Linked DNA regions of Homo sapiens: region 1 is linked to region 2. The links come from fine-mapping of genetic effects on gene expression. A gene starts in region 2. The other region holds a variant in brackets. All regions are shown on one strand. Distances are from middle to middle. Region 1 overlaps WNT11 (Wnt family member 11). Region 2 holds the start of WNT11 (Wnt family member 11).

The links. PIP is the estimated chance that this variant, and not a neighbour inherited with it, causes the effect.
Region 1: its variant is the best candidate, but not a certain one, in a credible set for the expression of WNT11 in whole blood (INTERVAL, PIP 0.80).

Annotation. Positions count from the first base shown.
Region 1 is chr11:76,182,486-76,186,858 of GRCh38, forward strand. It overlaps WNT11 (Wnt family member 11), which reads right to left. Exons shown (of 5, transcript NM_004626.3): 5 at 3,840-4,373. Among named protein-coding and RNA genes, the nearest start is that of WNT11, 22 kb to the right of the region's middle. RefSeq lists enhancers at 1,853-2,634, 2,635-3,415, 4,197-4,373 and a silencer at 2,292-2,481. The variant G/C (reference allele first, on the strand shown) is at 2,485.
Region 2 is chr11:76,204,857-76,209,222 of GRCh38, forward strand. WNT11 (Wnt family member 11) reads right to left here and starts at 1,646. Exons shown (of 5, transcript NM_004626.3): 1 at 1,469-1,646. The coding sequence starts at 1,551. RefSeq lists silencers at 1,559-1,798, 2,779-2,998 and enhancers at 2,103-2,770, 4,105-4,366.

The sequences.
Region 1 (4,373 bases), 22 kb before region 2:
CACCTTCATCCCTGGGATGCATGTTGTGGAGGCTGAGACAAGCCCAACAGTTGGAGCCAAGCAGTCCGAGGTTTGAATCTCAGCTCCTCCACTAATTATTCTCTAACATTGGGCCAGTCACTTCCCTCTCTGAGCCTTAGTTTCCTCATCAATAAAACAGAGATACTGGGTCATATCCCTTAGATTGGGTGTAAGAATTGGACAAAACAACTGCCGAAGAGGCCCAGAGAGGGCCAGTGGTTGCCTAGAGTCACACAGCAAGAAGCTAGAAAAGATGCAGGATTCCTACCTCCTAGCCCTAAACTCCCCTTACCCCGTCCAGCCTCTCTGGGTCTGGGGTTCCGGACTGGAGACTGCATCATGCTGGGGCCTGGTTTGTGTAACCCAGTGGCTGGTCTCCACAGCCTCAGGAACCACAGACCAGTGGCTTGCTCAGGGCTGGGCTTGGGCCCCTTGGTTGTTCCTCTGGCCTGGCCTGGCCTCCTCACGGGGTCTTATCTGTCCACTCTCCCCTTTCCCACCAAACTAATCTCTCCCTCTTTTCAGGAGTTCCTGTTTCCTCTCTGCCGCCTTCTTGTCTCCCTCCTCAGACCCTGTCTCTCCCAGGTCTCCAGCCAGCCTCCCACACTTGGTTCAGAGCCGCCTCAGAGCGGCTGGTGCTGTCATCACTGGGGAGTCTCCATCTTTCGGGGGCTCTCCAAGCCTCACACAGCCCTGTCTGTGACTGCTGCCCCTTACACAGGAGGGAGATGGAGCAAGTCCTGGGAAGGGAAATCTGCTGGGGACAAGAATTCTGACACCCTCAGATCAGTATGCAGCCTTCAAAATCCTTTGGGTTGGCCATTGGCCTGGGGGCCTCTACAGGGCTGGCAAGGCAGTGGTTTGGGGTTTCTACTCCACAATTCCTGAGTACCAAGATCTCACGTTTCCAAATCTCTGAACACAATGAGATCCTGAGCTACCAGAGCTCCGAGGTCCTGGGAGCCTCCACACCCCTGTGATGCACCTGGCAGAGGCCCCAGCATCCACCTCCCCGGAGTGGGGCTCAGCCTGGTTGCATTCTTAGAGCCTTGACCTGGGGGTGAGGGGAAGCACCGGGACCAGCTCCCACTGCCCTTCGGTTGTCCAGCTCCTGGCCAGCCAGAAAGGTTAAGTGCTTTGTCACAGATGTGGGGACGGGCCAGTAGCCCGCTGAGTCAGGGACCCCCCCCCAGGGTCTCCTGTCCTGAGCTTGAGGACTCCCCTCCCAGCCCTCCAGCTCAGCCCAGGAAACGGTCTTCAGCTCTCCATGCAGCTCCCCCGAGCCTGCTGGGAGTGCGGACATGTGAGCAGGAACGCACCTGCGCTCAGAGCCCTGCTGTGCTGGGAGTTTTCCTGAGGTCTGGAGCGAGCCGCCTTTTCTTGCAGAGCCTCAGTTTCCTCCTCTGTCAATGGTAACAATACTCACTTCGGAGGGCTGCTGTGATGACTTGGGCCACTGTGTTTAGAAGGTCACACAGCAGGTGCACAATAAATGGTAGCAGTTATATCATGTGGCCACCCTTTCTGAGAGCCATTCTGGGTCCTTGGTCTGGTTTCCCCATTTACTTGTCCTGACAGAGGTCCAAAGGACACTCCCAAATCCAACATTTTGGAGGTATGTTTTATACCCAGCCCTGTTGTGCTGCCCCCCAGATCCCAGGGCCCATTGGTGCATATGGCTGGTCCCAGCCCATGAAAAGGCCCCAGACAGGTGGGGAAGACAGATGATATGACACAACATAGGCCTCCACAACACCTTGGTTCCATGAAACATTGCAGGGAGCACAGAGGCTGTGGAAACCCAGAGGAGGCCCCTGACCCAGGCTGAGGGTAGTTGGGGAGGGCTTCCTGGAGGAGGGAGCCATTTACCTGGCTTTTGCAGAAGAGGGCATTGGCTGGCAGCTTGAGAAGGAGGGTGATGGCTGCTTTAAATGTTCAGAGGGTTGTGGGGTGCCTGAAGAGGGGGAGATCCCTTCCACCTAGGGCACTGGGGAAGGTTTTGTGGAGAGGGCTGTGAGGGTTGTGTGGGATTCCAGCAGGGAAAACAGCACTCTTGGCGAGGGAGAACAGCAGATGCCCAGAGGGCAGGCAGGCTGAGCAGCTGGGAGTTGCAGGAAATGCTGTTGGAAGAATCGCCTGGGGGACAGGCCTTGTGTTCCAGGCTAGGGACTGGGGATTGGTTTTGTGGGCTAGGAGGTTGCTGAGAGCTATGAAGCAGGGAAGCCCTGGGCCTGGAGAGCGCACATTCCAGGGGCTCCTTCCAGGGAGGCTGGGGGTTTTCAACAGAGGGGCTGGCAGGGGCCCCACCCGGGAAGGCTCCACCTCCCCCCGTTCCCAGCCCCTTATCAGCTCTGTGACCACAGGAAGGCCCTTCCCATCTCTGAATTTCCTCATCTGCAAAACACACCAGAAGACTTATCTTGAGGTTCCTTGCAGCTGGTGACGCTGTGGCTCTGGCTGTCC[G/C]CACTGCAAGCTTTCAGGCAGGGCCTCGAGGATGGCCACAGAAGGCCCCCTTCTTCCCACTCAGGATGGGTCCAGCCCCTGAGGGGTCATCCATGCCATCCCACCCCCAAGGATGTGGCTTCACTTCTCCAAATCCTGTGCAAGGCCCCGCTCTGCCCCAGCCCCTCCAGGTGGTGTCTCAGTCCTCAGCCGGCTCGGGGAGGGAAGAGCACTGGTACTAAGTCCGAGTCTCTCTGGTGCATGCAGAGATTTGGATTATAACATCCTCTTACACCCCAGCCACAGCAAGATCCAGGTGATGAACCACTGCTTCTGTTTCGGGGCCACCTGCCCTGGCCAGGCACTGGGGATACCCCACTTACTCATCTCTTGGTTACTGGTGCTGCCTCCATGAGGGAGGTGACACGGAAGCTCAGAGGGACAGTGATGTGCCTGCGGTGATCCTGTTCCCCTTGGCACCCTGTCTTCACTTGGCAACAGCCAGGACCGCCGACCTCCCTCCTGCCTCCCTGGCTGTTCCTTCTGTCTCCTGTGTCTTCTCTGAGCTTCATCTCCCCAGCCTCCAAGGCAGGAGTGCCCCAGGCCTTGGTCCTCTTTACTCTTCTATCCCACACACTCCCTTAGCGATGACACCCAAATGTGGATCTCCAGCCCTGGCCGCTCCCCAGCACTCCAGACCCGGATATCTGCCCGGCCACTCAGTATTTCCACTAGGAGCGTAAACTGTATCACAATCCCCACGGGCCCAAATCTGAACCCCAGGCCTCTCCCCACCCCCATGTCGGCATTCGGCCCCTTCAGCCTTCCCAGTGCTCCAGCCAAAACCCCGGCAGTCATTCTTGGGCCTCCTTCCCCTTACACCCCACATGCAAAAAGAGAACAAATCCTGTTGGCTCCCCCTTCAAAACAGAACCAGAATCCAACCACTTCTCAACACGTCCAATGCTGCCAGCCTCCAGGCACGAGGCCTTTCCCAACCTTCAGCCTTCCTCCCCACCACTCCCATTTTACAAATGGGGAAACTGCAGCTGGCAGAGAGCCCTCCCCAGGGTCACGCAGAAAACCCACCAGGGCTAGCTAGAGCCTGGATCTGCACCACCTCCCCGAAGTCTGCATCCCAGCTGCCCAGGGAGTGTTTTCCCTTGAAGCCAGCTTAGCAGGCAGGCCTGACAACACGGCCAGGCTTTGAGCTGCGCCTGCGTGTGTGTCCCTGAGGAAAAAAGATGCTGCCAGCTGGGTTTATGTTTCAAGACGTCTGTCCTCGCCCTTGACCAAGAGCTCTTACAGGGAGATCAGGGCCAGGGCCTGGTGTGGGGGGAGCGCGGGGGGAGAAGGGACATCAATCGGAAGCCGCCTTGCCTGGAAACTGGAGAGCTCCCTCTGCCAGCCCCAGGGTCTGCCGAGTTCACTTGACGAGGCCGGGAACTGCAGGGGCGGGCTGGGGCTCACTCAGCATTTATTTCATACAGCTGCTTAAAAAGCTAGTTTTAAAATAGAGATCATTATATATATACATATATATTTATATATATAAAATATATAAAGAGGAATTGAGAAGTGCCACCCCAAAGAAAAAGCTATGTTTTATAAATATTTCTGTAGCTTCCACATCCCAAAGGAAGAAAAAGCAAAAAACAAAAGAAAACATTTACAACCCAAGCTAGTGATTCCATGTGGTGGGCCCAGCAGGCTCAGACCCCAGGGTGGGCCAGGGGGTCCCGCAGAACATTCTGAAGAAGGCGGGCAGACCCCTTCCCGGAGGCTGGTCTCTGTGGCCCTGAAAGGTCAAGTCTGTATCAGTCTCACCGATCCCAAGCCCCGCTCCTTACACCAGCCTGTGGGCACTCCAGAGCCTCAGGCTGCCAAGTTATTTTTAATCTTGTCGGTTT
Region 2 (4,366 bases):
AATGACACCCAAGCCCACTGCAAGGCCTCTGACGCTCCTTCAGCCAATCCTCTCCTTCCCTGGACCTTAGTATCCTTATCTGTAAAATGGTGGCGGTGGATGAGAGAGCTTGGACTCGCTGATCGGAGGTCCCTGCCAGCTGGAACAGTGCTGGGTACCCCATTGCAAAAGGAAGGTGGCTGGTTTCTCACAGAACTCCTCAGGGACAGCTGGGAAAAGCTAGTGCCCAGGGCTGGGAGATTGCTGAGACCAGGCTTCTTGTAAACAAGAAAGGCAGGAAGACGGGGTTCCCTCCTCGAATCGTCAATTAATCAATAACTTGGCCTGAGAAGGGGCAGGGCCAGTGACCTCCAGACTGTTTGCTGGCGGCGCAGCCACTATCACCCTGTCTTCCAACTAATTCACAAACCCTTTGCAGCGCCCTCCCCAGCCCCCACAACCTGCCCCCTGCTGTCTTATCTGCAGGCTCCCTGCCCTGGCCCCAGATTCCAGACCCTTGTCCTGTCCTGGACTTTCCCTCTCAGGGAGCCCCTCTGCCCACAGCGTCCTCTCCATTGCCCGAACCAGCCAACTCCCAGCAGCGCTTCAGTCACCAGAGGCACAGCCTCGGAAAAGCTTCCCGGTGTCTCACATCTGTGTCCCCACCAGGTGGGCTTCCTTCCTCTAGGCCTCCAGATTCCCGCTCTGGTTTCTCCTCGGGCACTTGGACACTTGTGGAGTTATTTACAGCCTGGGCTTATCTCTCTCAACTTAGAGCGCAGCTCCTCCGGGAAGGGGCTGGTGTTTACTCCTCTCTTCACCACCCCCAGCCCCCTGAGCAGGCACTCCCTTCAGCTCGGCACCAAGCCTCTCTCTCCCTCCTACCCCTGCGTGAATAATTTCTATCTAAAGGAATGCCCTGCACATGTGCACAGTGGCATCTGACAGCTTCTGAGGTCCTTTCAGGAGCCTCTTCTCATCTGATTTGAGGGAGGTGGGGAGTCTCACCCTCCCGTGACAGAGGAGGACAAGGAGGCCCCAAGAAGTAGAGTGACACTTTCCCAAGGTCGCCCAGGTGGAGGGGTCAGGAGTGTCTCAGCGGAACTCCCGCTAGGGTCAAGGAGACTGACGGACAAGGACCGCTCCTGGGCTGGCCGCTCTGGATTGCGCCCCCTGAACAGAATGTCTTTTTCCATCTGCCCCTGCGGAGGTGGCCAGAAACTCCGTGGCCCTTGCGCCACCGTCAGCTGCACAGGACCAGGCGCTTCCATTGTGGTCCACGCCCGTCTCACTCCCTTTTCGCAAGCCTGCGGGAGGCAGGGACATTTTACAGAGGAGGAAACAGAGGCTGAGGGATGACTTGCCCACGACCGCCAAGCCAGCTTAGGCTCCCGGGTCTTGGTGCGCTCGCCCCATCCAGGGGACCCCAAAACGCCCTCCGCCGCCCCAGTCCCTGGCCTGTGCGCGTGGACGCGGGGTCCCTACTCACAGCCACTTGATGCCATAGCACACGCCGGTCTGGAGCGCCAGGGCGAAGAGCAGCGCCTCGCAGACCTGCGGCCGCGCCCTCATCGTCGCGCGGCGGGCGCGCCCGGGGTCACACCCAGGAGGAGCCGCGCCGAAGTCCTCCGCCTGCACGGCCGCCGCTGGTCCTGCACGCCGCCTGCAGCCGGGGAGAGCGGAGGCGGCGGGTTAAGGCGGCGCGCGGGCGGGGGAGGCGTTTTATTCAAATTACAAAGGAGGGGTCGGGGCCCGGGGAGGCCGAGCGCGGCGGGCGTCCCCTCCCGCTCCGCCCGGCCGGGGGACGCGTCCCGCGCCTGGCTCGAATTAGGCGCGGCCGAAGGCGTGTCTCCCAGCGTGGCCCCGGGCCCCAACGCGCCTTCGAGCCCCTCTGGCCGGGGCAGCCGGAAGGAGGGACAGGAGGCGGCAGAACCGGAGACCCAGGAGAGACCGGGCAGACACAGCGAGAGGGAGAAGGACGCTCAGAGGACAAGGCTGAGAGCCACGGAGACAGAGGGGGAAACCCGGACAGACGCAACCTGGGACGGAAAGGAGAGGAATGAGGAATCAGGAGTCCAGGCGAGGCAGCAGAGTCGAGGACCCGGAGCTGGGGCTTATCCCTGCAATATTGAGCATTAGTTAATAGGGCCTCGGCAATTCTCCTTCCCAAACGTGTTTCAGTTTACCTCCTCAGTAAGCTGGGGCAATTCGGGCACAATTCCGCTTTTATAAAGAACGTTCCCTGGCCGGGCAGGGTGGCTCACGCCTGTAATCCCAGCACTTTGGGAGGTCGAGGCGGGCGGGTCACCTGAGGTCAGGAGCTCGAGACCAGCCTGCCCAACATGGCAAAACCCCGTCTCTACTACGAATACAAAAAATTAGCCGGGCGTGGTGGCGGGCGCCTGTAATCCCAGCTACTCGGGAGGCTGAGGCAGGAGAACCGCTTGAACCCGGGAGGCGGAGGTTGCAGCGAGCGGAGATTGCGCCACTGCACTCTAGCCTGGGCGACAAGAGCGAAACTCCGTCTCAAACAAACAGACAAACAAAAAAAGTTCCCTAACACGATCGCATCTGCTCCTCCCAGCACCCCGTGAGATAGGCACTATCGCTGCCTCATCTCACAGATGAGGAAACTGAGGCACAGAGGTGGGGTTCAGCTAGGGAGCGGCAAGCCGGGTGTCCGGCGAAATCAGGAAATGGGGCTTGCTCGGGGCCCTGCTTTCTCGGTGTGGGAAGGGGAGGATGGGAAACGGGATGGTAGGGCTCTTTGTACAGTGAGGATTCCGAGTCTCCAAGTCCGTCTTTAGCCGCTCCACTTTGGAGGGTGGGAGTGGAAGCATGCGGGCTGGGACTGGGCAGCCCCGCCTTAGCGAAGCGGGGAAGCTCGCGGGGCTGGCGCGGTGTTGCCTCTGGCCTCCAGGCGGCGCCCTCGGGCCGCGGAGGAGAGGCTGCCCCGCCCGCCCGCAGCCCGCGGAGCAGCTATCTCCGCTTTTTTTCTCCTTCACTTCATTCTCACCTCATTAACTCCCTTCCCAGCTTCTCCCAAATTTACCAACACCTGGCGTTCGCCCGGAGTCAGACACAGCCCCAGCCCCTCTCCCCTCGGGAGGAGCAGAGACAAAGGGATTCCTTTCTAAGGGTTTGGGGAGTTGGAAAAGGAGGCGCCCACGGTAGTGGGGGCGCTGGAGCAGAAAAGGGACGTTCTTATCTGGCTCTGTGAGCTTGGGCAAGCCCTCAGCCACCCCAGCCTCGGTGTCCCCTTCCATAAGAACGAGGAATGGGGCTTCGCCGTGCGTCCCCCGAGGACCCCGTCTCCCTGCAGCCTGCGGGGCTCAGCGCCCCTCTGCTATTTGCACCGCGACGCCACCTGCGTGGCGCGTTCCTGCGCGTGGGTAGTCAGCACGCAGAGATGGGAAGCCCCACTGTTTTCTGGAGCCTGTCGGCAAAACCCACAGGAAGGCGAGGAGAAGCCTGGATCGTACAGTTTTTTTCCTCCGCAGAGCCCCGCAGCTAGCGCCCAGCACAGGGGCGCCTGCGACAAACATGCCGTCAAGGCTGGGGGTCTCAGAGGGGTTCTCGGTGTAACCCAGTCCCGTCCTCCCACCCAGCCTGTATCCAAATCCTTTGTCTTCCTGGTCCTGCAAGTTTCTTGCACTTCTCAGAACGAGAAAAATATCCGCTGGATATGGAGGGGGGAATCAAAACTCCAGTCACCGTCTTCCCCTCTCCCAAAGTGCGCCGCCCCCCGAAGGCACCCGGCATTCCTGGGTGGGGAGGGGGCGGGGGCTGCAAGAGGACGGAGGCGCGCGGACTCACAGCGGGGGATCTGTGTCCAGCCTGGTCTCCCAGGGAGAGGAGGAGCCCCCTAGGTCGCACAGCGGACGGGGACCCAGGCCTCCAGCCCCGCCCAGCTCTTTCGGTGCAGCCCCGGCTGTCCCAAGGCTCTCCCTCCGCCGCCCAAGCTCGTCGCGCGGGGAGGCAGCGCCTGGCCCGAGCCTCTGGGTCCTGACGGACTGTTCCTGTCCCTTGTACGAGCGCCCGGGACAGCCGCGCAGGCCACGGGGTCACCTTCCGCCTGAGCTCGCGGGTCAGGGTGCACGCGCCTCCTGAAGCCCCCAGCCCGCCAGGGGGCGCTAAGCCGGGGCTCGAGGAGGGGGGAATCGCGGCTGCCTCCTGCGTCGCGGGCTGGGGTCAAGTCCTCTTCCTGGGCCCCCGCTTCTCCGTCTGGGGATGGGACGACGTGTCGAGGGAGTGCCCCCTGTGTCCTGGTCGTTCTATAGGACACTTGCCGTGGGCCGCCCTGACCTGCCCGGCCCCTTGCTTGGGGCCGGGCGCGTAGTGGGCCGCGCCAGGCGTAGCACCTTTGGAGAGCGAGCGGTCACCTCCT